5 separate regions of the Homo sapiens genome follow, and regions 2, 3, 4 and 5 are each linked to region 1. The links come from fine-mapping of genetic effects on gene expression. A gene starts in region 1. Each other region holds a variant in brackets. All regions are shown on one strand. Distances are between the middles of the regions.

Region 1 (6,264 bases):
GGCTGGTCTCCATCTCCTGACCTTGTGATCCACCTGCCTTGGCCTCCCAAAGTGCTGGGATTACAGGCTGGAGCCACTGTGCCTGGCCAATTTTTCTTTCTTTCTTTTTTTTGAGATAGAGTTTTGTTTTGTCGCCTAGGCCTGGAGTGCAGCGGTGTGATCTTGACTCACTGCAACCTGCGCCTCTAGGGTTTAAGCAATTCTCCTGCCTTGGCCTCCCAAAAAGCTGGGATTACAGGCATGCGCCATCATGCCTGGCTAATTTTTGTATTTTTAGCAGAGACAGGGTTTTGCCATGTTGGCCAGCTGGTCTTGAACTCCTGGCCTCAGACAATCCGCCTGTCTTGGCCTTCCAAAGTGCTGGGATTACAGGCATAAGTCACTGTGCCTGACCTCCCATATTTTCTTCTAATAATTAATCTATTTAACATATTAAAATAGTGAGCATTCAAACCATCACTTTATAGATGTCACATATTATTTTTAAAGTTTTTCAAACTTAAGATATTGAGAATTTAAATAAATATACTATGTAAATAATAGGAGAGGTTTAGCATACATCTTGCAGTTAGTACCCAAGTGACTGATGCTTGGTAAATACTGTGCTAAGCTAAACTGCATCCTTCTAAATATACCTATTGCTGTATCTCATTCCTAAGCTAAGCAGTCCCCCCCCCAGTACCCAATGGTTGCCTCATGCATCCATTTAAGAAAGACAGCAGACCAAAACTGGAGTCACTAAATGCTAAGGATTCATGCTACCAAACTGAAACCTGGGTTGCTTACTTGTAAGATCTTCTGAGAAATCAGGAGAGGGATGAAAGCCAAATTACATTACACCAAGATTTCGTCTACACCTCTATAAGGAAAGTAACCTTGAAATGACTGATCTGCTATTTGTTCATTCTTCCTGCTTTCCTCCACTTTTTCCTGCCTGTCAAACTCACCCACTCGGTCCTCATTGGAGCACCTTTCTATCTTGTAGACTGCCTGGTGCATGCAATGCTATTAAAAACCAATCAGATCTTTGAAACTAAATTTGTTGAAATTTTGTTCTTATACACATCTGAAAAGCAGCCATCAGTATAAAGGCCAGCGAATCAAAAGTGGGTAACAAAGCAAGTCATCTAATCTAAACTGCAAGACAAGCATTTTGAGAGGCCTACAACATACCTTATTTTCAATTCTGAAATGCAGAAAGTCCTCCAAATTAGTTTTTCCCCACGCTTGGAGTAAACTCATTTGAACTGATATGAGACTATTTACAACCTTTATTTATTTATTGTATTTATTTTATTTGAGACAGGGTCTCACTCTATTGGCCAGGCTGGAGTGCTGTGGTGTGATCACAGCCAACTCACTGCAGCCTCAACCTTCCAGGCCCAAGCAATCTTCCCACCTCAGCCTTCTGAGTAGCTGGTACTACAGGTGGGCGCCATAGTGCCCGGCTAATTTTGTTATTTTTATTTTGTAGAGACGGGGGTCTCACTGTGTTGCCGAGGCTGGTCTCAAACTCCTGGGTTCAAGCAATCCTCCCGCTTTGGCCTTCCAAAGTACTGGGATTACAAGCATGAGCCACTGTGCCTGGCCCTATTTACAACCTTTATATATCCCACTTAGGGTGAATATTTGTGAATACTCACACATTTCTGCTATAGAAACATTGTTTGACTACGGGGGCATACAATATATCTCACCTTTTTTAAACATTCAAAAAATTCTGAATTTCACAAACACATCTGGCCTGAAAGGTTTTTGATAAGGGACTGTGAATCAGTGGTGGCATAATTAGTCTTAGGAGTACTAACTAATAGGAGAAATGTTACATTTGTTAAGTACTTAGTTTGTGTCCAGCATTGTTCTAAGTATCTTCTAGGTAAATGCCTCATGTAATCCTCACGATCTCTATGCTTTATCATCCTATCCTTTATAAATGAGGAAACTGAGGGAGATTAACTATTTAATTTGCTGAGGATCATGCAGCAAATAGCCCGAAGAGGGATTCATGCGTTTCACCATAATGGTTAAGAACAGGGCTTTGTCAAAGGATACCTTCAACTGCAGCAGAATGATGGACTCAAATCACAGAGACACGACAAAGTGACGGGTAGTCAGCTGTGGGTTGGTTCAGAGGCTCAGGCTGTTCCGGCTCTAGGTGATTTCCTGCTTTCCTAGGGTTCCCACCAGCTGCCCTCATGGTGACAAAAAGGCTGCTGCAGCTCCAGGAAACTTACACTGGGCAAGGACAACAGGAAGAAAACAGCCCCCACCCACCCAACTCCCCTTTTAACTAGAAGATCTTTCCCGAAACTCTGCCTCAACAGACCTCGCTTACTTCTCCCTGGCCCGTACTAGGTCGTGTACCCATCGTTAGCCAATCGCTGGCAACGGATTGGCCCCGTTTTAATTTATCCAAAAAAGGCGCCAGTCTGGGCTGTTTGGAGCAGTCAAGGGAGCTCCGTGCTAAGGCAGGAGGGGCCTGGACATGCGGCTGCAGGAGTCCGGGCCTCGGTGCCCTAAGATGAGGGCTCAGTGGTGCTCAGCACCGCGCCGGGCCAGAGACTGAGCCGCCGCCGGCTGTTGAGGGTTGGTTGGCTGAATCCCCGGCAGGGGCCAGGCGGAGCGAACATCACCGCGGCAACTGCCTCCACAGCACACACTCCCGACAGTGGCTGCGCTTTTCCCCTTCAGCACAGCCCAAAGGCCCCGGCAGCTCAGCACCTGCGACCTCCTAGTGCCCTCCAGCCTACGGAGGAGTAGAAGTCCTTCCGGGGCCTCCCAACCAGCAGCCACCAGCCACCAGCCACAAAAGCCGTGAGCCGCGCGGGGCTGGCCTGAAAGCTCTGCGTCTTCCCACCGCGGCAACAGCAGCTCCCACCCGGAAGCGAGGCAGCCCTGCGGACCACAACTCCCAGAAACACCCGCTGTCTCGCTCAAGCTAATTGACCCGCTGCGCCATCTATTAGCCAACCAGCCACAGGGAGACGGCTCCCCACGAGGCCTAACAACCAATCATAAGACAGAGGAGGCGGGCGCTCCTCCAGCCGATCCACGGGGTGTTGTCAAAAGTTTGGCGGGATCCTGAAAGAATGCTTTCTTTAGAGCCCCACGGCTGCTCCTGTGAAGGGAGAAGCGACAAGCAGAGATATGCAGGGACCTCTCTGCGAAGTAATGACTTGGGGCAGACGGACAACGCCCACAGCATCCCAATAGTCTCAGAAGACTCTGGTCTCTGCTACTCCTGCCTGCGGTCCTCGCCTTGGTGCTCTCGCGCTTCCCGCGGCGTCCCGCCCCTCCCTCTCCTTATTGGCTCCCCAGGGCCTTGTGCGGAAGGGGGCGTGGTGCGCGGGCCTCGGCCAGGCCTGAGATGCCGGGAGGGTTTGACCCTGGGGCTGCATGGACAGCTTAGCGCTCGGCCGCTGGCGACAGCGGAGGGCGGAGGATCTGCAGGTTCCGGGGGACGTGGTGAGCCCCCGGGGCCTGGGCGTTAGGGACGGGAGGGCGGATGGCCCCTGGGCGGGTTCCCACCGCGCCTCGTTTTTGCCGGCGCGGCCCTGCCTGTGAGGAGGCCTGGCCCAAGACACTCGCACGCTCGCGTACGTCCCTGGGAGGGCGTGGCCAGTGATGGGCGTGGCCTGTTAGGGCGGGGTTGTGACGCCGCTCTCCCGGTTTCGCGCCTGCGCGGTCGGGCGCGGAGCTCGGGCACCTTCCTGACCCACACGCTCACTGGGGCTCCAGACCCAGGCTCCCTAAAACATGGGCCGAGACTCATTGCAGGACCTCGGGTGCTTGGTATCCGTGTCATGTCTTCTCCTGCCGTCTACACCTGACTGTTCCTGAGTCTCGTTCACTGAGCGCCTGCCACGTGCCAGGCCCAGGGCTGGGTGTTGGGGGACGAGTACGTGGGGAGCGAACACGCGCAGAAAATTACCCGGCATTGAGCGTGTTAGTGCTTCTTGGGCTGAGTCCATTAACTGATGAGCAGAGGGTAAGATGAGATGGTAATGGGGAGACTTGCACAAGATCCCAGGGTGCGTGGGTAAGTCAGGTATGTGTGAGACTTGAAGGATGACCGGGGGTAGGCAGGATGGGAGGTGACAAAAAACAGTGTTGGAGGAAGGAGCTTAGCGTCTTAGGGGCACTGAAAGAAGTACTGCAGGATTGGAGCTGGAAGACAGAGCTGCTTGGCATTCCTGTATTTTATCTTCCACCTCTGCTTGCAAATTGGCCAGTTCTTACTTAACCTCGTTTATTTCAAAGTTCCTCGCTAGGGGCAGCAGTGAGCAGCCAACATACCGCATATTTGCTTTTTTTTTTCTTCTAGAGCTACACAGGCTTGGTAAGTGCAGGATCCGTCTTCCCAGTTAATACAGGCAGCATTTTTTTAGATGTCTTTACTGCGTAGCGGGAATGACTAGCTTTCTACCCTGCACCATCTCTTTCCTCACTACTCACTGCCTGGCCGTGAAGCCAGTACCACTTAGGTTTCTATCACAGCCGCACCCCTCCTCCAGGTACCAATTGTTATATTACTAGGGTGCAGGTTACCCCAGTAATATAGTAATAATATGGTATAGTAATGTAGTATAGTAATAGTATAGTACAGTAATATAGCAGGTTAGGGTGCTTTTGTAACCAAGAGCCTTCAAAGCACGCTGGCCCTAACAAGATGGAAGTTTGATTCTCCTGCACAGAACAGCATGGACGTGAGCAGTCCAGTGGGGTGGAGCCCAGGGTCACTAAATATAGGCGTAGGGCTGGTGGTACCCAGATCAGGGGATATGCGGGGACCTAAGTTCCTTCCCCTCACACCATCCCCTGGGTGTCACCCTCCTCTGCATAGCCAAGGGTGGCTCACTGCTACTGTGCTACCAGATGGCAGAAAAACAAACAGAAAAGTGACATGATTATGCTGATGTGTTGAGACCTTACTTCACTGCCCTGGAAAATGAAAGGTGTGATCAGGGTGCAGGCAGGGAGGCAAGGCTTGTGGCTACAGTAGTGTGTCAGAGGAGAAGTGGCAGAGGTTTGCACAAGAGAGGGCAGTGGGGTGGTGACACTAGAGAGACGTGACTGTGTAGAGGGAGAGCAGACAGTCTCACTGATGGAGTGGCAGTGGCAGGGTAATGTGAAGAGTGGAGTCCAGGGTGTTGTAGGGGTTGACTTGAGCCCTGCGAGGGCAGTACTGCTGCTCCTTGAGAGAAGAGTGGTGTGGAGGCAATGAAGAGCTCCTGTTAGGCCATGCTGTGTTTTCTGCGACTTTGAGACGTTTAGTGGAGACGTGGCAAATACTGCTAGTGATTGAATGGTTATCATGTGGATTATCTGAATTTCTTTAATCAACTAAAATTTATTTAAGCATAAAGTTACTTTCACATTTGTCTACACCTACAGTAAATACAGTTGTTGGCATAAAGACACAGCCTTTAGAATTTAAAGCCTCCCCACCTGCAAGATTACATACGTAAAACTCCCACTGTTGTTTCTATAATAGTGGATTAATCAAATTAAAATAGTTATACTATCGAATAAAATACAATGGAAATAATTTACTTATAAGATTCATATTTAAATCATCCTTATTTACAAAATACTATCCTAAGAATTATAATTCCATTAAGTTTCAATTTGAGCAAAAGTGTAATCACTTAAGTAACAGCAGTTACTTGAAATGAGATCAGTCAGAATTACTTTTGAAGAGAGCAAAAATATTGCCAGGTATCTTGCTGCGGTTTTGGATGTTCCGTAGCAGGCTCATTTGAAGGCGGAATCAGCCCTGAAGGGAACTCACTTCTACCTTCAGAATGTGGGGGTCGGGGGAAAAATCCAGGTCTTGGGGGAGGGTAAGGAGGAAAACCCCTCGGTGGATAGACATTTCTCATTGCAAACGGAGCATGTGGTGGACCTGGGAAATCCCCTGGTGGAAAATAATCTCGAGAAGCTCCAAACCTGGTTCCTGGAGGAGGTGGGGGGAAAGGAGGTGCTCTTCTCATGAACGGGCCCCTTGTATCCACTGGAAACAGTGGACCTCTGATTAGGGCAAGAGGTGGAGGAACAAAGCGAGGGCCAGTTGCTGCATTTTCAGCAGGGAGAGATGAATCAGGGATATTTAAATTACCAAGATCATCTTTGGTGTCATTTCTACTGGATTCCATTTCTGAAGGCATTGACCCATCCATTTTATCCAAAGGAGGCATATTAAAACTTCTGAGTTCTGCTGGTCCAGACAGTCCACCAGAGTTAGAATAAAATCTGTCTTGCCTT
Region 2 (6,264 bases), 71 kb after region 1:
CTTGTAAAAATCATACTTTCCAGTGGGTTATGGCTGATATTTAGGAGGACTGTTAGATTTGGTGTGTTTTGTGTCTAGCCAGCTGATAACCTTTCCAATTTGCTTTAATATGTTAACGCGTTCTCTTCAATTTTCCAGGAATACCAGCATGTTTATAAGTAATGATGATCAATTTTTTGCCGTATAACTCCTTGGGAAAACACACTTAGGTTATGAAGCATTCCCTGCGGTAACCTTGAGACTTACGGCAGCATTGTCTCATCTGTTGGTGTTTTAATTATATCAGCTGCTTAACTTTCTTATTTTAAAAAACATATTGTTATGGAAAATTCAAACATACTCAAGCATGCTAGGCCAGTGAGCCTCCACGCCCCTCACCCAGCTGCAGTGAGCATCAGCGTTTTGCAGGCTTGCTTCCGCACTGTCTCCGAGTTTTTTCCTGGAGTGTATTAAGGTAATCCGTAATTCCACCTTGAATACCTCAGTATGTGTCTTTAACAGATAAGGGTATTTTGCCACGACTGATACACACATTTAACAAAATGATCCATAATTCCTTAATAGAGTCTGATATTCAGTTCACTTTCAAGTTTCCTCCAAGCCGTGACGGCCCACCTCCTTTCCAAGCGTTGCTTTCCCTACTTGTGTTTTCAGTTTCCACCTTTCTCACACTGGCTATACGAATATAGGCTCTCCAGACGTTGGCTGAGGTGATGAAAACAGTATGTGGCTTTCGGCAGCTCTGGATCAAAGGACGGAGAGGTGGATCCAAACCTGACAGCAAACAACTGATTTCAGATGCCCATGGTGTTAACAGTAGAGTGATGCCCGCGAGGAGGGGTGGGCCAGAGCTGAGGGAGGTCTCCCATCCGAGGGGCTGAGCTTGCTGCCTTGGGCAGCACAGAAAGGGCTTCCGCGCTCCAACCAGCAAACACGCCAGCTAATTGTCCAGGACTGAGACCGTTTGAGAAAACGATGGTGAAATCGATCACAATGTTTCTTCTGAGGAAGTGAGCCAAAGGAACTTCGTCATATTTATCCATTCACAAACTCTTCTAAGAATGTAAGTTTAATCAAATTAGCAGATTTTCTATTCTTCTAATATGTTTCCTTTGTCAGTTAAGTTAGCTAACAAACGGCGTGAAAGTGGTTAACGTTTGCAGAATGATCGTTCCATGTACGTGATAACTCTATGCACATTTTCTGATTTAGCCTAAACAGTCTAGCCCTGAATCAGAAAGTAATAATCATTCCCTTCTTCCCACATGAAGCCCACAGAGCTCTGCCTGGGGTTGTCTGTGTGTGTATGTATGGGTGTGCACATGAATGTGTAGCTGTGTGTTCATAGTGTGCATGTGTGGGTGTGCACGTGTGTACACAAGTGCATATTTGGGTATGTATGAACGTGTGTGCATGCATAATGTGCATGAGTGTGCATGTGAATGTGTGCTTAGGGTGTGCATGGGCATGTACATATGTGGTTATGTGTACACATAGGGCATATGTAATTGTATGAGTGTGTGCATGTGTGTGTGTGTGTGTTACACGTGTTCATGTGAGAGTATGCACATGGGTGCATGTGTGTACATGCATGTGTGTGTGTGTGTGTGTGCAGAGCTTATTAAAATTATACATAAAAGTCCTACAAGTTTTTTTCACTTAATTTGTCCTGAAAGTGTTTCCTATGGACACATTTCATCAGCACAGATGGAACTCATCATTTTAAAAGCCATGTGTTGCTACATTGAAAAGATGAACAGTAATTCACATAGCTGCTATCCCCCTGACAGACACATAAGTTCCTCTCAAATTTTGGCTACAGCAAAAGTGTTAAAACTCATAAGTTAAAAATGCAAATCGAATTTATGATATATCATTTTACTATCAAGTTGGCAACATGTTTTAAAAATCATAATCGTGCTGGTGAGGATGTTGGAAAATAGGCACTCAGTCACCATTGGTAGCAATGAAAAAAGAGTTTCAATCATTGTGGAAGAAATTTGGCAAAACCTATCACTATTTGAAATGCCCCTGCTTTTTGGTCCATCATGGCCTCCTTGGTACTGACTCTGAGCTTAGATTCATGCCTGAAGCTGCTGTCCCAGCCTTGTCCCCTGACCTTCGGAGGGGACTCAGTAGAGGTCAAGCTGGTGATACCTGTCCACACGCCTAAAAGTTCAGGTTTGTGGAAACCATCTGGACTCAGGAACCAGAGCCTCGGTATTTAGGTGCTCGCTGCTTTGCATTTTATCTCAAACACAGCTTCTCCCTGGCAAGACGGCCGTTCAGGAGCTTGGCCTCCTGAGAAGTAGAACGGATTCAACCCACCTGCCCTTCAGTGGAGGGAAGAGGTGATACCATTAGGATGGCGCAGCCCCTCCCACCCACCTGTCAGGGCCTCCTGGAGGTCTGGGAGTGCCGGTGGCGGGGGCCCTCACTAAGATCCAGTGTCCCTTCCCATGCCGGTTCATGCCCGGGAGTGCTCCCCAAGCAAGGAGGCCAGTGTAGCTTCCTGAAGCCTCATGTCCCTTGGTGCCCCTCACTGAGCCATAGGCCCTGCCACTGTGGTCCCTTCATTCTACCTTTTTTTTTTTTCTTTTTTTGAGACAGAGTTTCACTCTTTCACCCAGGCGGGACTGCAGTGGTGTGATCTCAACTTCTGCCTACCAGGTTCAAACAATTCTGCTGCCCCAGCCTCCTGAGTAGCTGGAATTACAGGCACCCGCCACCAAGCCCGGGTAATTTTTGTATTTTTAGTAGAGACAGGATTTCACCATGTTGGCCAGGTTGGTCTCGAAATCCTGACCTCAGCTGACCTCCACCCACCTCGGCCTCCCCAGGCGTGAGCCAGCACGCCGTCCCATTCTACTCTCTTGAATAAGGCGCTTCACTGTCTGGAGGCTGCAGGGTGCGGTGGAGAGTCTCAGGAGACTTGCTGCTGCCTTATTCTGATGTGCAGGAAGAATGTGACTCAGTACTCAGTGTCTTATGAACCAAATGATCCACTTCCTAAGCCGTTTTGCAAAAGAAGCCTTCGAGTGATCTTCACCTTGGAGAGACCCAGAACTCATACCACGCTTGCACGGCAGGCTAGGGATCAGACTGCTCTGTCCATATACGGGGACAGGCAGATGTCATGATATGGTCCTCGGTGCTCTTTCTGGACTGCTCAGCAACAGGCCAGCTGGGATTGGGGTGCCTTCAGCCCAGCAGGGACTGGGGGCTGGGGGCATGGATCCCAGGCCTACTGATGCTGGCTGCTGAAATTCCCAGCACTCCCTTAGGGAGGGGGCATCCAGGCTCAGATGACTCCCACCCCAGCTCCTCATGTTCCCTGCTGATGAGTGC[A/T]CTCAGCCCATGGAAAGGGAGAATGGCAGGGGACAGGTCCCCTCCTGGGGCATCCTCACTAAGATACCAAGAGAATGGAGCTTCCAGACCTCCCACTGCTGATTTCAGAATTAGCTTCCCCAGGCTGGCCAGTTTCTTATCCCAAACCCTGCACATTGCTGTGTGATTTGCCACGTCCCTAAATGGTTCATGCCCAGTAGCTCTCTGGGGACAGCAAATTGGTAGTCACCCACTGTGCTTTCCTCAGAGTCATCCACAGTACCCTTGGGGAAGGCCATTGCCCCAAGGAGAAGAGCGCATGAGACGTCGGGAGCCTTCCTAGAGGCAGAGGTCAGCCTCCCCACCTGCAGCGTATGAATGAGAAACAGGCCCAGGGCATCTTCTGACTTGCAGGGCATGAGTGTGAATTTTATGGGTCCACTTGGCTGTGCCACAGGATACCCAGATAGCTAGTGAAATATTATTTCTGGGTGTGTCTGTGAGAATGTTTCTGGAAAAGGCCTTGAAATCAGGAGACTGCATGAAACACTCATGAGATCAGTGTGGGCAGGCAGCATCCACCTCATCGAGGGCTGAGTAGAACAGGAAGATGAGGAGGGCACGTTTGCTCTCTCTGCTTGATCTGGGCTGCCCATCTTCTCCTGCCCTCGGATGCTGGTGCTCCTGGTTTTCCAGTCTTCAGACTCACACTGGGACTCACGTGGCGGACTCCCCTGGCTCTCAGGCCTTTGGGCTTGGACTGGAAAGCACCACCGGTGGTCCTCGGCCTCCGGCTTGCAGACAGCAGAGTGTGGGACTTCTCAGCCCCCAAAATCACATGAGCCGACCCCATAAGAAATCATTCTCCATGTATCTGTGTATATCCTGTTGGTTCTCTTTCCCTGGAGACACTGGCCAATACACAGATGGACAGAGTAGCACTGGCTGGGCTAGTGTCACCGTTCCCAGCTGCTGGGGTGACAGAGCAGCACTGGCTGGACTAGTGTCACTGTTCCCAGCTGCTGGGGGACCAACTGTCCTGGTTTGTCTGAGGCTGAGCCTTTCTTGGGATGCAGGACTTTTAGCACCAATACCAGAACATCCTGGGCAAACTGGGAAGAGCGGTGGCTCCACACATTATCAGTCAAGCCCCTCCCTGCGTCCTCCCTGCCCAGTGCAGCACTCCCCTGCCCTGTGGTCAGAGCCTGCTGGCCCATCACTCCCTCCGGCCTTGCTACCGTCTCCGCCTCCTCCAGCTTAGCAGGAAAAAGCATACACAGTCGGTGCTTAATGGTTGTGCTCTGTGCTGCACTGAGGTGGGCTGTAGGCAGGGCCAGCAGATGATAATTGGGAGGGCAGCCCAGTCCCAGGTTCATTAGCCAGGGAGGCTAAGGCCAAGGATGGCCCCAGGCATGGCTCAGCCTGGGGGGTGGGGAAGGGCCTGGGCGGTGTTTGATGCCCACACCTCCGTCTGTCCTGGCAGTCCCTTTACATCCATCATTTAAAACGAGCAAACGCCAATTAATAAAATAATCCCCCGAAACCATTTTCCTCCCGGATTGTGAGCCTATATCAGAGGTAAGCCTGCAGGGAAGTGTTACACAGGCTCATCAAGACCTTAAGTGAGGCTGTGGGGCCCACCCTCATCCCAGGGGCCCCCAAGACAGATGCTCCTGGATGAGATGAAGTGTAAGCCAGGGCCTGCAAGGGAGCCACAGGCTGGGGTGGCCTTGCCTGGACAACGGCCTGTTATTCTCCATTTACTGCATTTCTCTCCCGGTAAACAACATACAACTGAGGACCCACTTCTCATGCACAAATGAGCAGTCCCGAACCCGAAACTTCAGTCAGCGGCTGGCCCTCTCTCTCAGGCCACCTGTCACCTGCTGGCCCAGTTGCTGCAGGGTCCATGCCTCCCTCTGTGCCTGTACCTGCTGGAAGAGGCCGCCGCATGTTACTCCCTGTCAAGAAAGAATTAAAGAAGCATCTTGGGTAGGAAGCAATTGTGGAGGGTGGAAGTTTCTGGCCAGGCAAATAAATTGGATTTAAGTATATTACAGTCATAATCTTTTTCTGCCCCTCTCCAGACGGTCTCTGTACATGGAAAAATGAGAATGTATTCGCAGACAAAGCTTGACCTGAGGGAGACGCCTGCCGGAATCTGGATTTTCAATAACATAAGACAATAAAGCTTAGACTTCTAACCTGCCGCAATATGGGAAAAGTATAAAGAGCTTAGCTGCTAATAAAAGGGAAGGGTCTTCCCCTCATATTTGAAGATCCGGACCCCCCAGAAGGACACTTCATGAAGATCACAGTGGGTTAGCTGGGATCATGCAGACACGAGGCCCCTTGTTGACCGATTGTCTGACAGTTGTCACGTATGGGTCTGATATTAATAAGGCCCGCATTGATTTCCTTGGGGTATTTTTGTCCCTGTGAGTGCACAGCCTCCTGTTGTGGCTCTAGCCTCAGTGGCGCTGAGCTACAGTTGCCCTCAGCAGGATGCACAGGTGGGGCTGCCCTCCCTGGGGTGTGCACACCTTGCCAGTGGCACCTCCCTCGGTGGGTGGCTGGAGGGGAAGAAGGGACATGCTAAGGACAGGGGACAGAGTCAGGGCCACTCCCTTGGAGACCGGGCACCCTGGTCCACCCACAGCAGGCAGGGCTTGTGAACGATGGGCTTGGGAGTGAGCCTTCTCTTGTTTCGCTTGCTCATCCAGTACTTCCTCTAGGATGCAAGTGGGCTGCCGGCAGTGTTACTGGGGTAAGTAACTGGGTGAAGTCAGCCGGAGGAAAGCGGCAGTGCTTAGTTAAAAGTGTTCTTTGACATGTAACATACGGCGGAAGCGGCGGCCCGGCCTTGGTGAATTTCAATGCTAAGAAGCCTTGTTGCTCACCCATCTCCTCCCACAGGGCAGAGGGCATCGCCCTGTC
Region 3 (6,264 bases), 46 kb after region 1:
AGGGTGCACGCCCACTTTCAAGTGTTGACGCCTCCAAGAAGGAAGGGAGGAAGATGAGGCAAGGGTGTGACAGGTGTCCCTCGGCACAGGGCACAGCAGGTGCTCTAAAGACATTTCATCATACAAAGATGCATGCTGGTAAAGACGGATGATTGTCTTAGAGGTCCAAGCTTTTACTGTAGGCCTTTGTAGAATTCTCTTGAGAAGGGACAGTGTTTTGTGGTAGTAAAGACGAATATGCTGTTAAAGGAAGAAAAAATGACTCCTCTGGCAGATGGTAATGGCAGGAATCGTCAACATCTTTAACCCACAGAGGGCTGCTGTCATCCTGTCACACAGGTACTCGGGGAGAAGCAGAGAGCTAGCCACAGCCAGGGCTCTGCCCATTAAGGAAAAATGGCTTCAGCAAAAAGGGAAGGAGATGTGGGGTGCAGTTCTCTCCTCCCCCAGTCCACAGGGATGACTTGCAGCTAGATGTACCAGAGGTGAGGGCATCAATCTGGGTGTTTCACGTAATGGTCCCAGATGGAGTGAGGTGTGTCCCTGTTGGCCCTGCTGTCCTTCCGGCTCCACAGAGAGGTCATGGAGAGCCCAGCGAGGAAGGCTTCCAAAAAGGAAAGGGGGACGTTTTGAGGGAGTTCATGCGTGGTGGCAAACCCCACAAAGAAGCCGTTGCAGTGAGAGATGAAAGAAGGGCTGAGGCCACACACGTGTGCCCCAAGGGTGTGGAGGAGAAGGCGCTGGGCAGCAGGTGCAACCAGAAGCAGCTGGCCCTGGGCCCTTTTCATTCCAAGGTTAGAAGCAAATAAAAACTCCCTCTTCACAAACATCGTTCTCTTGCTCCGTGGAATTGTGTTTTACCAAAAGTGGAAAAGGGTTTTCCCATTATTGCTGATCAAATCACTTTTCAAGCCTGACCAAACAGGAGGCAAGGCATTTTAATTGTCTGCAGTAAGACTCACAGTCGAGGCACAATGAGCCTGATGCTCCTCGTCAGACCTGCCTCTGGTGGCTGGTGTGGGCCATCTGTGAGTCCCAGAGTCTGATGACTTGAGGTCCCACTGGCCCAGCCCCAGTCTAGATTGGGGTCAGTACGAGGCTTCTCTTTGGGTGTCACTGGGGGCTGCTTGCTTTGAGAGAGACAGAGACAAACTGGGACGTGTCAAGAAGAGAGAGTAGGATGATGCGGGGACTTGAGATCATGCCAGGGCAGAGGTTTAAATGAGCAATTTCGAAAGGTTCCTTTGTGTCTAAGAGAGAGTAGAATGGTGCGGGGGCTTGAGATCACACCGGGGCAAAAGGTCTAAAGAGCAATTTCTAAAGGTTCCTTTGTGTCTAAGATTCTGGGTCTTGGCCAGCTGCGTTGGTTCACACCTATAATCCCAAGACTTTGGGAGGCTAAGGCGAGTGGATCGCCTGAGGCCAGGAGTTCTAGACCAGCCTGGACAACATGATGAAACCCTGTCTCTACCAAAAAAAAAAAAAAAAAAATTAGCCAGGTGTGGCGGCAAGCACCTGCAGTCCCAGCTACTCAGGAGGCTGAGATGAGAGGATCTCTTGAGCCTAGGAGGCTGAGGCTGCAGTGAGCCATCATTGTGACACTGCACTCCAGCCTGGGTGACAGAGCCAGACCCTGTCTCAAAAAAAAAAAAAAAAAAAAAAATCCAGGTCTCAGTCCTCAAATTGATGTGGCTCTTTGTCCCCACGTTTTATCCTTTCTGTCTCAAACATGTCTTCCAGGTATACCCCTCCTTGAACAGAGCAGGGAAGGATGCGTCAGGAATAAGTCACCTCAGTGAATAGCTGTTTTTAAAAAAGAAATCATTGTGTTTTTCAAGTTCTGTGGTTGGTGATGACGAAATGAATTAAACAGCATTTCCCTGCAGTTCCCCTGTCTCTTCCCTAAGAGACGCCTGCTGCCTCCTGGGTCTGCGCACCCCACGGCACCTCCAAGTGAGCCTCCCAGGCTTCCACTGACTCTGCCCCTTCAGTGCACAGCCCAGAGCCGTGATTTGCCAGCTGGGCTCCTGCGTTCAGAGTCTCCCAACAGAACAGGTTCTTGTCCAGAGAAGTTCAGGAAATGCTACATACTTTCCCCTGCCTTTTAGAGACTTGATGTCCATTAGACTGTGAAAGACCTCGAGAATTGCATGAAGAAACT[G/T]GTTTCCAAAATGTCCTTTTGTAAAGGGATACCTGCTACACATGTGATTCTGGGAATATTCTGGGAAGCGCAGGCCTGTTGAGTAAATGCAGCACCTGTATTCACCATGGCATCCAGGGCCCTTCAAATCTCAGTGTTGCTTGACCTCCCAGACAGCTGCTCCCATCCCTGCCATGTGCGCCACAAGCCCCTGCTCCAGCCGCCACAGCTTCTCCGATCCTGGAACAGTCTGACCTTGTACTGTGCTTACTGCTTGAGGTATACCTTCCCACCTCCAAAGATTCTCTTGCTCCTTCGTGGCCCACCCGAGATTCCTGTCTTGTGTGAAGCCTTCTTCAGGCCCCTCACCAGGTAGGGTCACGTGCTGTCTTCCCTGGCTCCTGTAGCATTTCGTTCTGATCACTCGAAGGAGCCATCAGTATCTGACGTCAGTACTCTGCTGTCTGATAATCCCTCCAGGCAAGTTCAGAGTCTCTCCTGTCTGGTCCCTGTGGGTCAGGGCAGCCCCTGCCTTCCAGGAAGCAGGGACATCATCAAGAACTGGACTTCTTTGTTTCCCCACTGCCCAGCCTACCCCACCCTTCCTGGGCTGCAGCCAGCTCAGGAGCCTGTTGCCCTGATGGTGGAGTCCTTTCAGGACAGGGAGGCTGTGCCTGTCTCTGCCTGTGGGCCAGAGTGCCACGCTGCTATGTGCCAGGATATGTGGCCAAGTGTGACAGAGATTCCTAGATGCTGACGAGCCTCTCATTGCACAGTGGTACAGTGTCTGGCCAACTGTCTATCCCCAGCCATCTGGTTCTCCCAGTTACTTCTGCGGGTGAAGGTGAGGAGATGAGAGGCCTGCTCTAGGAAATGGGTTGGGGGCCGGAGGGGCCCTGGTGGGGATTGCCGTGAGCCTCTCTTACTCCCGGATGTCCCTGGTGAGAGGAGCCACTTTTGTGTTGCTTTTGTGCTGAATCCTGATTCAATATTTAGACATTTTTTTAAAAATTTATTTTATGAATATATGAATAGTATTTTCATTCTCTTGCTATTCCTCAAAGTACTATAGGAAAGAAGGGAAGTAACATTTATTGAAAGTCTTCTGTGTACCAGTCACTACTGGAAATGCTTTAAATATCTTAATTATAATGTAATATATATTAATATATCTATAAACAGATACCTCAGGAATTAAGTTATCACTTACAAGTAGTCATTTTAAATGTAGTGCTTTGTGTTGGCAAATGTATATATAGCCAAGGTGTATTAATTTGGCCAAGGTAAATTAATTCCCGCAATGTGCTGTTTTATCTTTGTAGGGACATTTTAGCCATACCAAGAATCATTAGAAGATGCAAGCTGGAAAAAAGAAGGTCCCAGTTTTGGTTTTGAACCCTTCATGTTGCAGCAAATGTGAATCTCCTACAGATGGGTTTGGGGACTTACCTGTTCAAATAGCAGCCCGGTGTCCTCTGTGGGTGGGGGGAGGTTTGTCTGTCCTTTCATTCTAGTAAATCCACCATCCTCTGCACGAGAGCCAGGAGAATCCACATCACTTCAAAAGAGCCCCCAAATCCTTACTACGTACTACAGCCTCCTTTCGAATGTTCCTGGTTGAGAGGGAGATCAATTGCATTATTTACAAGTCAAAAAATTTTGTATCAAACTTCCTATGAGCTTGGGCACTCATGGCCTATGGAGGCCCACCCAGACGCAGCCCCGCCATCATGCTTTTTCGTTGTTTTGTGGATGTACCCAGGGCTATTTACACACTCTTTCATTAAAAGGCTTATTTTTATATTTAAAATGTTCTAATCTTGGAGTGAATTTTACTAAATGCTAGTGTCCAATCTGTTCCCCAACTGAAGTTATCAGAGACAGAATCCCTTTTATATTCAAGTGGAAATTACTCATTTTCTCTTGGGTTTTCAATGTATCGTCTGACTGTGAGGCTGGCATTATTTTCTCTGGGTTTGAAAGCTTCCTGAGATGTCCTGTTTGTAAGCTCCTGTCCGCATCACGTTATCTGCAGGGAATGTGCTCCCTCCAGGGAGTGTCCTCGGCACTGATGTGGGAAGAGCCCCCTCTATAAGTCATCATGGCATTCGGTCATGGGAGAGTTCCATACGGGAAAGATGGAGCAGAGGAAGACAAGGTGTTGAAACCAGTACAGCACCACCTGGGATATGGATGATCCAGAATTACAGGACACGTCTTCATTAAGCCTGGGTAAGATCCCAGAGCTATGACTCGATCAAAAAATGCCAGTTCGTGCCAAACAACCAAAGCCGGGAAAGAGGGAGAAGGTATTGGCGTTTGTAGCCTTACGAAAGATCTTTATGAAGAGCTTTAGTTTGTTCTTCTCTTTTCCAAAATGAGATACACGTCTAATTTTTACGGGAAAAAAAGAAAACTCTTAGATGGACAGCATGTTCTTTTTTGTGTGTAAACTCTTCCTTCTCACCCTCGTTCATGGAGAGAGCAGGTGTCCACCCGGTGTCAGGTGGGTGTTTTGTAGCTGACGTGGCACGCGTCCCTCCAGCTGTTCATACGAAGCTGGCTTTTGTAGAGAACAGTCCCCGGGCATCCTCCTGCCCCAAGGAAAATGCCCCCGCTTCAGAGTCAGACAGACGTGAGTTCCCATCTCATCTCCACCGACCATCTCCACCTGACCTTGATGAGTCCTTAGACTTCTTGGAGCCTCTGGTTCCCATCTGTGTGGTGGGGAGGTTGCCCTTGGGGTTTGCCCTTAGCCCACAGTGTGACTCCTCAGTGTCAGTGCCCTCCCTCCTGGTACACAGCCCCTCCACCCCAAAGCAGGCCTTCGGTTCTGGAAAAGCAAAGCTCACAAAACCTGATGACCCAGGTGACAAGGACGAAAGGGATGAGGTGTAACTGGCCAGAATGTGGGTGTATTAGGGTTCTCTAGAGGGACAGAATAGGATAAGTGTATATGTGAAGGGGAGTTTATTAAGGAGTATTGACTTGCATGATCACAAGGTGAGGTCCCACAATAGGCCGTCTGCAAGCTGAGGAGCAAGGAAGGCAGCCTGAGTCCCAAAACCTCAAAAGTAGAGAAGTCGATAGTGCATCCTTCAGTCTGTGGCTGAAGGCCCAACAGCCCTTGCAAACCACTGGTGTAAGTCCAAGAGTCCAAAAGCTGAAGAACTTGGAGTTCGATGTTCAAGGGCAGGAAGCATCCAGCACGGGAGAAAGAGGAAGCCTGGAAGACTCAGCCAGTCTAGTCTTTCCACATTCTCCTGCTTGCATTATTCTGGCCAAGCTGGCAGCTGATTAGATGGTACCCACCCAGATTGAGGGTGAGTCCGCCTCTCCCAGTCCACTGACTCAACTGTGAATCTCCTTTGGCAACACCCTCACAGACACACCCAGGATCAATACTTGGCATCCTTCAATCAAGTTGACACTTGATATTAACCACCACAGTGGAGAACCAGCAGCTTTATCCAGGTGCTGGATTTTCCAGACTGTGAAGGGAATGGAGGAGCTTGTGACTGGGTACCTAAAAAGGGGGATGGCAACATTTTCTTGGTGTTTTCAGCCATTTTAGTACAGGCCATGAAATAGAAGGCTCAGAAATTCCAGATTTTCCTAGGTGTGGTCCACACCTCAGTCCCATCCTACTCTGGCCTCGTGTGAACAGAGGTCCTGCCCGTGGCCTTGTTGTCCCCTGGCAGCCGCCCTCCACCCACCCCCTGACTTGCTGTCACAGCTGCCCTGGCATCCATCCTGGCCTTCAGCCCCACCTCCCTGGCTCCAGAGTCATCCCTGGCCACAGGACGGTCTCTGCTCTCCAGCCCAACCCGCCTCCTGCTGGGATTACCTGGAGGAGCTCACCCCGTGCAGAACTGTTTCTCCCTGGCAAATTAATTTGTCAGCACCACAGGTACTAAAACAGATTAGCTAATAGGCAAAACCTGCATAGATTTCACTAAACTGGGTCTTGATGCACCCATGACGAGCGTGAAATGGGATTATCCCTTTAAAGTGCTTCATCTTTGTATTCTTGTCAAAAGAGGAGGAAAAAGACATTTTCTTACACCCTGAGGAAACAGACTGGGCATTGATGTGTCTGTATGTCCATTAGATAAATTTTCAAT
Region 4 (6,264 bases), 38 kb after region 1:
ACTCACTATCACGAGAACAGCAAGGGGAAGTCCGCCCCCATGATCCAGTCACCTCCCACCAGCTCCCTTCCAACATGTGTGGAGTATAATTCCAGATGAGATTTGGGTGGGGACACAGAGCCGAACCATATCAGCTCCCCCGTTTGGCTTCTCATCTCTTCCATCATTTGTGTAGCCAAATCTTGTTACAGTCCCTCTGTTTGAAATATACCTAGATTGGTTTCTGTTTTCTTACCAGCGCTAATCAGCTAATGAATGGACAGATTCTCCTGGGGAGGAAAGTTGCTGTTTCTAACAGAGGTCTCCGGGCCTGTATTGTCCCCTGCAAGGGCTCAGTCAGTAGTCCGCAAGCTTGGCACTCCAGAGTGCTGGCAGGGCTGATCCTGGTGATAAGCCACATGAGTCCCGAGAGCCTGGACATGAAAGTTAAAAATACAGTCAGGCCCTTCAATGTTGCCCATCGCTAATGCTCCTTCGCTGCCTTTTATCTGTGGTTATTGGTTTTTATTACTCAAACGGGTAGGGAGTTACCACTGAAAAGCCAGCATGCAAAACATGGTGTTTCCTGGTGCCATGGAGTCTCCGCTCCCCACGTTGATTCTGGATACCAGCATTGTCATTAGCCTTATCTTTTTTTCTTTTTTTTTTCATTGAGGGCAAATAGCAAAGGAGCAGTCTTAATAAGCCTCCGTATTATTCACTTTTTGACATTGAAATCTATTGCCTGACAACATTTGTGTGTGTGGTATATATGGTGTGTGTGCATGTGTGTGTCTGTGTACATATGTAGTGTGTGTGCATGTCTGTGTGTGTGGAGTCAGCCAACGTAGGAGTAGAAATTGAGGGCAGGGGAAGGGAGGTGTTTGGTCCAAACCTATTGTTTTGGTTCAGTTTTCCCTTGTAGGGACACCAGGAGGAGCCAAAGTATGATTATTCTGATTCTAAATGGATGCATTTTTTCTTTGTATTTCTTTTTATCTCCAAATGGGTTACCTTTAAAGTATTTCTGTTTATTTTGTTTACATATTTGTACATTATTGGTCATTGCTTTCTACACCTACATCATCTATAAATACTGCACTAGAACAGGAAGCCTTGGAACCCAGTGATCTCTGCCCTCCTCTGGTGCCTGCAGTGACGGCTGAGAACACTGCCTGTGCTTGCTAGGGCGGGTCCGAGTGTCAAGCTGGGGACGGGACCAAAGATGGAAATGTAACGTTCTGATATCGATGAACAGAGATCGATGCGCAGTGCCCTGCTCTTTGTGTCCTGTCTCGGCCACAGCTGATAGCAAGCATCCTTGTCAGTTCTTTCTTCTTCTGTCCTGAGAGAAGAAAACACAATCATGGAGGGATCAACGGGAACTTCATTGATCATTCTGTAAGAATCAAGTTGTGCTCCATGCATTTCTACCCCCAGGTTTGTCAAGGATCCTGGAGTTCATTGGTCTAACCCTGTCAATTTACAGATAAGGAAAGTGAGGTCCCCAGGGGCTAAGCCATTGGACTGCCATGCACCGTGGTTGATGGGGAGGCAGGGGCCTGAGCACTCTGCTTGGAGCCCCCTCTGCTTTCTGCTCTTTTTGGCTGATCAGTGTGTTTGCAGTCAGCATGCCGGCATCACTCCCCAAGACTGGCGGCCCAGCGTCAGGCTCGAACACCCTATGAGAACTGTGGCAGTGACAGTGCGGGTTTTTGTGGACTTCATCCCCGGACACAGTGAGAAGCTCTTGGCTAAGACACAGGGCTGATTTACTCACACTGTGAGGGAATAAGCTGGGAATGGAAGAGTCTGGCTGTGTCAGTATAGCCAAATACGAATCCCAGAATAGATGGGTATGAATAGACCACTGACAAAATCTTCAGATTTAGCATCTAGCAGTAGCTGACAGTGAGTACTTTCTCTGGAATATGGATATTGAAAAACTACCTTTAAAAAAATTTTTAACTGTTATTTAGGTCATTTTCTGGCACTGAAGGAGCTGAGGGGCTTCAGATGACTAGAAGAAAAAAGAAACAAGTTCAATTTAGACTTCCTACAAACATGTTAGATAAAACCAACACAGATGTGTCCCCCTCCTGCTGCAGAGACTCAAGGTAGACTCTGATAAAAAAAAAACACACAGCTGATCACGTAATAGGCGAAGAGAGAAAACAAAAGTAGTGCCGTTGGGACCAACACACTCTTTAGTGGCCGTTCCTGGGTCTGGGTACTTGTTGGGTTTGGTCCTAGATTGCACCCAGGGCTGGGAACTGGAATGCTCACGTCCAGAGATAGATGTGGTTTTGGCCTAACAAAGGTGTGGGAGCTAGAATTTGGATCCTTGCATAAAGTTTAGAGCCTGAAGATCTGATTGTACCCTAAAAGGGGACTGGAAATTACAATACCAGGCCATGCATGGGTATGGGCTCCAAGTTTATTTTATCTCAGTCATACAGGAACCAAAAGTAGAAGCCCTGCCATAAAAACAGTTGCAGCCCATTGAAGTCCTGAAGGCCTTGGGTGGCAGCAGGTGCAGAACTGTCCTGTAGGCATGCCTCCACCACCCAGTGTGTAGGAGATTTGGAGATAAAACAACCCCCACGGAGGATAAGATCACACTAGAAAAATAAGCACATAAACAAATCTACCACCATGGTGAGAAGAGGGGTCAAGAAATAAACAGTAGAATCAAAGTCTCTAACAATCTGAAATAATTGAAGAACCTGAAGGTGGATATAAAGTACGGGCACAACTCATTTTATTGCACTTCACTTTATTGTGCTTTGAAGGTACTGTGGTTTTTACACATTGAAGATTTGTGGCAACCTTGCATTGAACAAGTCTGTTTGGTGCCATTGTCCCAAAAGCATATCCTCATCTCATGCTTCTGTGTCAGCATTTTAAAACAACAAAGTATTTTTAAATTAAGGTGTGTACATATTTTTAGGCAGAATGTTGTTGCACACTTAATAGACTACAAGCATATTGTAAACAAAACTTGTATATGCACTGAGAAACCAAAAAATTTGTGTGACTCACTTTATTGCAGTGTTCTGCAACCAAGCCTGCCATGTCTCTGAAGTATCCTGTAGTTATTTTATAAAATGATTAAAGAAGAAATAGAGCCATAGTAAGAAAGGAAGACAGTTTGAAAAAAAATTGGAAGGTTTTTTTAAAAAGAACTAAAAGTGCATGATATGTTCATTGAAGTTTTTTTAAAAAGTCATCAGATTAGACACAGTTAAAGACAGAATTAGTGAATTAGAAGATAGAGCTGGATAAATCCCCCAAGCACAGCAAGAGAGATAAAAAGATGGATAGTATAAAAGTGTAATTAGGAGTCATAGAGGAAAGAATGAGAATGCCCATTAGGAAATCCAGAAGGAAGGACTTTAGAGAATGTTTGAGTAGAATAGTTGAAAAGATAATGGCTGAGAATTTTCCAGAATTGAAGAAAGGCATATGTGGTCAAACAATTTTGAAGTAGAATAACAAGCAAGGGAAATTATCCATCAGATATCAAGATATATTACAAAGCTGTGACCATTAAGACAATGTGTTAATTGGCCTAAGTGTAGACTAACCAATGAAATAAAATTGAGATCTTTAAACATGCATATATGGCAGTTTGAAGGCATTATAAATGAGATTTACATACACCTATAAATTGTGCCAGGGCAATTAGTTATCCATATATGAGGAAAGATAAAATTAGATCTCTGCCTCACACAAAATCAATTCTAGGAGGTGGGAGGTGGGGGTGGGAGTTAATAAGAACCTATATATGAAAGAAAAACCTTTAACATTGTTAGTAGAAAATATAGAATATGACGGCCAGGCGCGGTGGCTCATGCCTATAATCCCAGCACTTTGGGAGGCCAAGGTGGGCAGATCACCTGAGGTTGGGAGTTCAAGACCAGCCTGACCAACATGGAGAAACTGCATCTCTACTGCAAATAAAAAATTAGCCAGGCATGGTGCATGCCTGTAGTCCCAGCTACTCGGGAGGCTGAGGCAGGAGAATCTCTTGAATCCAGGAGGCAGAGGTTGCGGTGAGCCGAGATTGTGCCATTGCACTCCAGCCTGGGCAACAAGAGTGAAACTGTGTCTCAAAAAAAAAATATAGAATATAACTGTATATATTAAGACATGCTACATATCAGAATTCTTTCATCATTGTCTAAGAAAAGCTTTTTGCAGGAAAGATATTTACAATGCACAAAATATAAAGATGGGTTTCTTGAATAAATATGCAAATCAGTCCAGTAAATAAATGGGCAAAGTATATGACCTGGCAGTTCAGAGAAGAGGAAACCCAAAATAGCCA[A/G]TAAATATAAATAGGTGTTCAACCTTACTAGTAATTTAAGGGCTTGCAAATTAAACCATCAAATTAGCAAAAATAAAAATGGTGCTATAACTGTGAGTGAGGTAGAGTGAAAGGATGTGTTCACTTCCTCAGAAGCCATGTACATGGGTAAAGCTTATGGTGGGCATTTCTGGTAAGCTAGAAGATATGGTCCTAGGTGTATACCCTAGTAGATGCCCAAGAAAGTGTATACAAAATATTTGTTGTATTTGGGAGGCTGAGGCAGGCAGATCACTTAAGGTCAGGAGTTTGAGACCAGCCTGGCCAATATGGTGAAACCTCATCTCTACTAAAAATACAAAAAACATTAGCTAGGCATGGTGGCGCATGCCTGTAGTCCCAGCTACTCAGGAGGCTGAGGCAAGAGAATCACTTGAGCCTGTGAGGTGGAAGTTGCAGTGAGCCAAGATCCCACCACTGCACTCCAGCCTGGGTGACGGAGCAAGACTCTGTCTCAAAACAAAACAAAACAAAATATTTGTTGTTGCACTGTTAGAGTAAGAAAAGCCAGAAACAACCTAAATGTTCATCAATAGAATGAATAAATGAATTGCAATAGATTTACTCAATGAAGTGTTACAGAGAGCAGTGAAAATGGATCAAATCAAATGGAGAAAAAAGGAAATTACAGAAGGATCTACGTAGAATGATACTATCTAGATACAATTTTAAGCATGGGAAACATTGATATATATCTACTAAAGGAATAAAAACATTTATGAGAGTGGTAAACAACTTCAAAATAAGGGCGTTATTTCTACTGAGTGGAAGGGCTCAGGGTGCAGTGTTTTGGTGATATCTAATGTTTTATCCCCTAAGTTTTGTGAGTCTTGGGTGTGATGTATCCACACATAGATAGGTCATCATGACACTGGAGGACATCAAAGGCAGAGAAACGTGTAGAGCTGCTAGAGAGAAATGACTGGCTAAGCATGAAGGGATGATAATTTGACAACAGATCTCTCATTAGTAGCAATAGATGCCAGAAGAGCTTGGAATGCATCTTTGAGCTGCTAAGGGGACTGCACTGTGACGTGCATGTGGACAGGCTGCACCAGGTCCGGGGGTGCGATGGCCACTGCAGTGGGGTTCCTCTCCCCACCCCAGAAAATTCAGTTACCAAAACTGACTCAAGAACAGAGAACAGAATCAGATCAGTAACAATGGAAGGATCTGGGAAGGTTATCAAAAAGCTCCCATCACAGGGATTTTACAGATTTTAAAAACCCTGTATGAAAGAACACATGGATGATTTAACATTAGAAAAATGACTGCATTGTCTGATAAAAGGGAAAATAGAGATCATCTGTTACATGCAGCAACAGCATACAGTCAGATGCGAATCCCATTCATGATATATATTTAAAAACTCCACAAACCAGAAATAGAAGGCTTTCTTCTGGTAAAAATTAAGGACGTGATACTTAGTGGAAGCATCTGTGTTGAAGAGAAAAGGACGAGGATGCTATTAGCACTTCTGCTCGGTATGCTAGGGCTCCTAGCTGGCATAATGTGATAAGAAAAAAAAAAAGAAACAATGGACATAAGAATTGGAAAGAGAAAAATCTAAATTGTTATTTCCAGATGGTATAATTATCTACATAGAATATCCAAGGCTGACCACAGTGACTCATGCTTATAATCCCAGCACTTTGGGAGGCTGAGACAGGAGGATTGCCTGAGCCCAGTAGTTGGAGGCTGCAGTGAGCTATGATTATGCCACTGTACTCCATCCCAGGCAGCAGGGTGAGACCCCATCTCTTAAAAAAAAAATTTTCCAGAAAATCTGCAGATAGACTAGTAGAACTAATATCCAGCAAGATTGTTGAATATAAGATGAACACACAAAAATAGATAGACTCTTACTTACTGGTAACAGTCAATTAGAAGAACAAAACTCCATTCACATGGTTGCA
Region 5 (6,264 bases), 26 kb after region 1:
ACACATGTAATACATATGCTTAATTCAGTGTGTTTGATGTTGAAGAGTGTGCCATTTTCTTGCTTTGCTGACTGAAGAGAGTATGTGGTGCTTTTCTGTTGAAGAGGTCAGAGAACCATGCCTCTTCTCTATTCTCCACCCTCCTCTTGAGCCCAGAGCGGAGGCTGCCAGCATGGCAGAGCCCCACCGGTGGCAGAGCTGGCGCTGGGCTCTGCTCACCCTGCTCCGTGTTCTCTGGCTCTGCTGTGTGTTTCTAGGGGCTTTGGGGAGATGTCCCCTGTCTGGTTCATATAAGGGCTGGCTCTTCTCAGCACAGAAACCAAAGCTTTGAATCTCATCTCTGGCAAACTGTTAGGTCTTCAACCCCCTATCCCTTATAGACACTTCACTCATTAAGCTCACTTGGGACCATCACCTCCGGAAAAGGAAGAAGTCCCCCTCAACAAATGGTTGGTCTTGCCTCCTCAGGACAGGCAGCAAGACTTCCTGAGATCTGTGGCAGCTTCGTGTGTTTCTATCATTGAGGCAGCACCATCCCTGTTTGCTATTTTAATTTAGCATCGTTTGAAACAGCGTCTATTTCTCGGCCACGCTCCTGCTTCACCTTTCTCTGATGAGGATGCTGGTCACTTGATCTATTCTAGTTATTGTTATGTAATGGGGTCCTTGTGTATACTTAGGATTTTCATTTCGTTCATATAGTACAAGTGTCTTTTTAGCTTGGCATAAGCCTTCATCTGCCTTTGCGAAGGCTGACAGATCTTCTCGTTCAACGTAAGCAGCCCCAGATGTAAATGCCTCTGTGGCAGTCATTTTTCTTTGGTCCAGGCCCATCCATGACAACTGAACTATTTCCCAAGTAAGTGTATAGATCAGTATCGTATGTGGTCAGCTCTCAATAATCCACAGTAAGTAACAGAAAATATGAATAAATTAATTCACTGTGCTGGCTGAGTGCCACTGAGATGTCATCCTCACATTCCCTACTAGAACCCACACTCTGCTCGCCTTGGTGGCAGAGTATGGCTTGGCTCTCCTTTCTCCTACTACAGGCTGTCGGGACCCTGGCCCTTCAGCCCCCTGCGCCCCTTGAAGAATGTCAGCTTTTCATTGCAGATAATCACAAGTCTGCTGACCTTAATGTGCCAAGGGCCATTCAACCACACAGAAAAGGTGTAGAATATAGTTTCATAAGTGTTGTAAATTTCATCCAGAAAGTACAGGTTCTCATTCATATTCATGCATGCCTGTTTGCTTTCCTTTTGAGTAAGTCCTGTGTTATTGAGAAAAGAGGAAGGGAAATAATATTATTGCTATTAGCCGACTATGGTGTTACTGATGGGGGAAAATTGAAACTTGTAAAATTATGTGGGGAATACTTAATATTTCCACTTTTCCCCTTTAATCCAGGTGATTGAAAGTTGACAGCAAACCAGTTTTAACATAACACACCTCCTTTTGCACTGTAAGGATTGAGCAGATCCTGAATAACCAGAGATTGAAAGCCTTGGTCTTAGTTCTTCAAACTGTCATCCAACTTAGGTGAAGACATAGAAGGCTGCATTATTTGCAAAAGTCCTAAGGATGATTAATACGATTACTGTAATATATGGCAGAATAAGGATTGAATATATTTTGATATGCTACAAATCAAATACATATTCCATGGAAATCAGATTTAACTAGTGTACATAGGAGAGCCTACAGTTAAATTAAAAGAAGAAAAAGAGGAAGACAAAGACGACTTAATAAGCCCCAGGAATGAGAGAGTACGTTTGTGTGGAGAAGCTGAGGGGGTTGCAGGGGAGGTGAGCTCGCATGGACCTGTGTGTGATGTGGTTGCTGGGGCTGTTGACCTAGTGTGGGTTTCTCCTGTGCAAACACAGTGGCAAGTGGTGATTCTACTCTGCTAGTTACATGGCATTGAAAGTATTTTGCGTGGTTTATTTTAAGCGGGATATTGGCAATTTAGAAACACTGGACTAGGGTGTCTAGGATATGAAGAGTCTGAAGAACATCTTTGAAATGGAATAGTGAGAGAGACTAGGGATATTTGGTTGGAGAGAACAAGCCTCCAAAGTGTCTGAGAATGATCATCAAATATCTGAATGTTTATCTCATACACAAGGGGTTTTGTTTATTTTATGTTGCTCAAAGGAGAATAATTAGAAACAGTGGGTTGAGGTTGTGAGAAGGCAATTTGGTTTAGATCAGTATTTCTCTCACATTAGGGATGCAAGATATTTTTTTTTCATTTTAAAAAACTTGTTATTTTGAAATAGTTTTAGACATACAGAAAGGTTGCAAAAACATAGTATAGAGTTCATATACATCCTTCACTTAAGCTTGTTAATGATCTTAGTATAGTTAGCATGCCATGAAATTAATGTTGGTGTAGTACTGTTAACTATAGACCTTATTCCATTTTACCAGTTTTTCCTCTAATATCCTTTTTCTGTTGCAAGATCTAACCCAGGATCCCACATTGCATTTAGTTATTGTGTTTCCTTCCTCTCTTCCAATCTGTGACACTTTGACAGTCTTTTAGGACCTCGACACTTAGTGATTATTGGTTAGTTATTTTGTTGTCCCACATTTTCTTATGATTAGAGTCAGGGTGCGCATTTTTGGCATGAGTACTGCAGAAGTGATGTTGTGCCATCTTGGTACGTTGTACGGAGGAGGGTTCATGGTATTGTGTCCCATTACTGCTGTTGTTAACCTTGTCACTTGATTACGATGGTTTTATCCACGGTAAAGTTACTATTTTTCTCTTTACAATTAATAC[G/A]AATCTTGGGGAAGATAGTTTGAGGCTGTGCAAACATCCAGTTTCTCCTTAAACTTTTGCCTCCTAATTTTAGCATCTATTATTAGATCTTGCCTGCAATAATTTTTACTGTGGTATTTACTTAATGTATTTCCTTCTTTCCTTTTGCATTTGTTAATTAGAATTCAACTGTAAGGAAGTCCTTTCCCTTTTCAGCTATTTATTTACTCAATTATTTTTGATATGGGTAGACTAATAGGCATTTACTTTATTCTGTGGATTATCCAGTGCTGTTTTTTATTTATTTTATTGCTTAAATCATTCCAGCTTTGGCCAACAGGAAGTCCTTCAGGTGTATGCCTTTGTCTTTTTGACATGCCCTCATTTTACAAGAACTTTCTAAGTTTTTGGCCTATGAAGTGTTTGAGGCTCATCTTGTATTTTCCCTACTCCTTCCCTGAATCAGCTGCTTCCCATGGAGTCCAGATTCCTTTTAAGGGAAAATGGTATTTCGAAACCAATTTCTAGGTGATAAGTGTAATCTTGCTACTAGGATGCCACTGTCCTTAGTGGACACAGCTAGGATATATATATGTATGTGTGTGTGTGTGTGTGTGTGTATCACCTGCACACACAGTAACTCACACATACATATCTTTATATATTTCTATATCTCTGTCTGGATATGTATTAAAAATTCTAATGCAACACCACTGGGTTCATTGTAGCCTCTCCCTTTTCTGTATTTGTAGCTTATTTCTTAAACAGTGAGAAACTTTGCTCTTGTTATTTACAGTGTATTTACTTATTTATCCAATGCCAATAAAGTAATTTCAAAAATTGCTAACCCTGTAATAAACACATTTACTAGCTAGAGTACAGGATTTCTATACAGTGCTTTTTGTCGTCTTTATTTAGCGTTTGAGTTTCTAGTCAAAATAGTTTTTTTTTTCTTTTTGAGATGGAGTCTTGCTCTGTTGCACAGGTTGGAGTGCAGTGGTGCAATCTTGGCTCACTGCAACCTCCACCTCCCGTGTTCAAGTGATTCTCCTGCCTCAGCCTCCCAAGTAGCTGGGACTACAGGTGCCTGCCACCACGCCTGGCTAATTTTTTTTTTGTATTTTTAGTAGAGATGGGGTTTTACCATATTGGCCAGGCTAGTCTCAAATTCCTGACCTTGTGATCTGCCCACCTTGGCCTCCCAAAGTGCTGGGATTGCAGGCATGAGCCACCATGCCTGGCCCAAAATAGTATTTTTAAAAGTTATTTGGGGTAGTTCTTTTCAGTGTGGCTATGTTACTTATTTGTAATGTAGTTAGGTTCATTATTTTTGTATTCCACTTGGGTTCCTCTCCCCCTATGTCTTGGTTTACTTACATTTTTCCCTCACTTTTTGGCATGTGAAATGTTACTCTGGTGCTTTAATGCAGAGCTCTACACTCCCTCTTCATTTCTGTTCCCATGCCACCCTGTTCCCCAGCCCTTTCCTATCCACTCTCTGTAGGAAAGCAGTCTCTTTCATTTCTCAAATATCCTTCCTGTATTTCTTTTGCAGAAATGAGCAGATAGTGTCCATTTTCTTATAACCCCTTCTTTCTTACACAAAGGATAGCATATTATAGATACTCTTTTGCACTTTGTTGTTTTCACTTAACAATGTATTCTGGAAATCACTCTAGACCAGTTCATGGAAATCTTCCTCTTCCTTTTCTCAGTTGCCTAGTACTTCGTTGCTTGGATGTACCATAGTTTATCCAACCACTCTCCAGTGTAGGGGCATTTAGGTTGTTTCCAATATATTGCACTATTGAATAACTGTGCAAATGTGCTTTTTTCCCATATCGTTGGAGGTGTATGTTTTGGGTAGATTCTAGAGTTGTAATTGCTGGGTTAAAAAATGTGCATATAGCTTTGTATTGCCAAATTTCCCTGCAAGAATTTGCATTCTCACCAGCAAAGCAGGAGGTGCCTGTTTTCCTGCAGCCTCACCAACAGGGGCTACACCACATTCTACAATTTTTGCCATTCTGATGATAAATGATATCTTGATGTTGACTTAATTTGTATTTCTTTAAATATGAGTGCATTTGAACACTTTTTTTCATGTTTGAGGACCATTTTAATAGCTTTTTTAAATTGTTTATGTCTTTTCTCCATTTATCTTTCAGGTTTTTGGTCCTTTTTTGCTCAGCTTTTGTAACAGTTTCTTATATTCAGGTTATTCACCCTTTTTCTGTGGTATATATTGCAAACATTTTTCTTCCCCTTTTATCAGTTATCTTTTGATGTTGTTTAGGATTTTTTTGTTTGTTTGGCCTTACAGAAGTTTTTATTTTCATATAGTCAAACTTGTCAATCTTGATTTTATTGCCTCTGTATTTTGAATCATAGTTAGAAAATCTTTCCCTACACCAAGATTAGAGAATTCACTTGTATTTTCTCCTAGGAATTGCATAGTTCTTTATAATTAGATCTTTTGCATTCAGGTCCCTAATGCATCTGGTTTGGTTTTGTATGTGGTTGTATTAGTCTGTTTTCACGCTGCTGATAAAGACATACTGGAGACTGGGTAATTTATAAAGAAAAAGAAGTTTAATGGACTCAAAGTTCTGTGTGCCTGGGGAGGCCTCACAATCATTGCAGAAGGTGAATGGCACGTCTTACGTGGCAGCAGGCATGAGAGAGAATGAGAACCAAGCAAAAGGGAAGCCCCTTATAAAACATCAGATCTCGTGAGACTTATTCACTAACACGAGGACCGTGTAGGGGAACCGCCCCCATGATTCAATTATCCCCCACTGGGTCCCTCCCACAACATGTGGGAATTATAGGAGCTACAATTCAAGATGAGATTGGTAGGGACACAGCCAAACCATGTCATGGTGTGAGGTGCAGATCTAAATTTCTTTTCTCCAAATGGCTCCAAGTTGTCCTGGGACCGTATATTAAAAAGTCCATCCTGCTGGGCACAGTGGCTCATACCTATAATCCCAGCACTTTGGGAAGCCAAGAAGGGAGGATTGCTTGAGGCCAGGAGTGTGAGACCAGCCTGGTCAACATAGTGAGACCTCATCTCTAAAAAAAAAAAGAAGATCATATATGTATGTATAAAAAGTCCATCCTTATCACAGTGATTTGAAGCCAAACTTTCATATATATTTTGATTTATATCTGGACTTTTAATGCTACCACACTGGTCTGTTTGTCTCCTTGTGTGCCACTGTGTTTAATTATGGAGTGTCTATGGTTTGTTTTCGTGTCCAGGAGTTGTTTTATTTTTTCCTTCAGGGTTTTCCTGGCTCTTCTTGCATATTTGTTTTTCATTGTGACCGTTAGTATCAACTAGTATAACTCTATAAAATAGTTTACTGGGATTTTTACTGGGATTATATTGAATTTACAAATTAATTTTTAGGGAGAACTGTCATCTTTATAATGTTGGGTTATCCTATCCAAGAGTTGAATTTTTCTCTGATTACTGCTTTAAATGTATTTCA

The links. PIP is the estimated chance that this variant, and not a neighbour inherited with it, causes the effect. A credible set is the group of variants that fine-mapping cannot tell apart.
Region 2: its variant is the best candidate, but not a certain one, in a credible set for the expression of C10orf143 in testis (GTEx, PIP 0.60).
Region 3: its variant is the best candidate, but not a certain one, in a credible set for the expression of C10orf143 in whole blood (TOPMed, PIP 0.54).
Region 4: its variant is the best candidate, but not a certain one, in a credible set for the expression of C10orf143 in blood mononuclear cells (TOPMed, PIP 0.65).
Region 5: its variant is the best candidate, but not a certain one, in a credible set for the expression of C10orf143 in whole blood (INTERVAL, PIP 0.86).

The regions. Positions count from the first base shown.
Region 1 is chr10:130,107,905-130,114,168 of GRCh38, reverse strand. C10orf143 (chromosome 10 open reading frame 143) reads left to right here and starts at 3,339. Exons shown (of 4, transcript NM_001355042.2): 1 at 3,339-3,465. The coding sequence starts at 3,397. LOC102724883 (a long non-coding RNA gene) reads right to left here and starts at 2,876. Exons shown (of 3, transcript NR_188169.1): 1 at 2,053-2,876; 2 at 787-851. It also overlaps the pseudogene CTAGE7P. RefSeq lists enhancers at 2,035-2,164, 2,645-2,974, 3,835-4,014, 4,175-4,284, 4,875-5,134 and a silencer at 3,265-3,644.
Region 2 is chr10:130,037,162-130,043,425 of GRCh38, reverse strand. It overlaps a transcript of C10orf143 not described here. Among named protein-coding and RNA genes, the nearest start is that of C10orf143, 71 kb to the left of the region's middle. The variant A/T (reference allele first, on the strand shown) is at 3,349.
Region 3 is chr10:130,061,582-130,067,845 of GRCh38, reverse strand. It overlaps C10orf143 (chromosome 10 open reading frame 143), which reads left to right. Exons shown (of 4, transcript NM_001355042.2): 4 at 3,463-3,950. The coding sequence ends at 3,492. Among named protein-coding and RNA genes, the nearest start is that of C10orf143, 46 kb to the left of the region's middle. The variant G/T (reference allele first, on the strand shown) is at 2,162.
Region 4 is chr10:130,069,474-130,075,737 of GRCh38, reverse strand. The region is part of intron 3 of C10orf143 (chromosome 10 open reading frame 143); the gene reads left to right. Among named protein-coding and RNA genes, the nearest start is that of C10orf143, 38 kb to the left of the region's middle. The variant A/G (reference allele first, on the strand shown) is at 4,310.
Region 5 is chr10:130,081,775-130,088,038 of GRCh38, reverse strand. All of the region lies in intron 1 of C10orf143 (chromosome 10 open reading frame 143), which reads left to right. Among named protein-coding and RNA genes, the nearest start is that of C10orf143, 26 kb to the left of the region's middle. The variant G/A (reference allele first, on the strand shown) is at 2,789.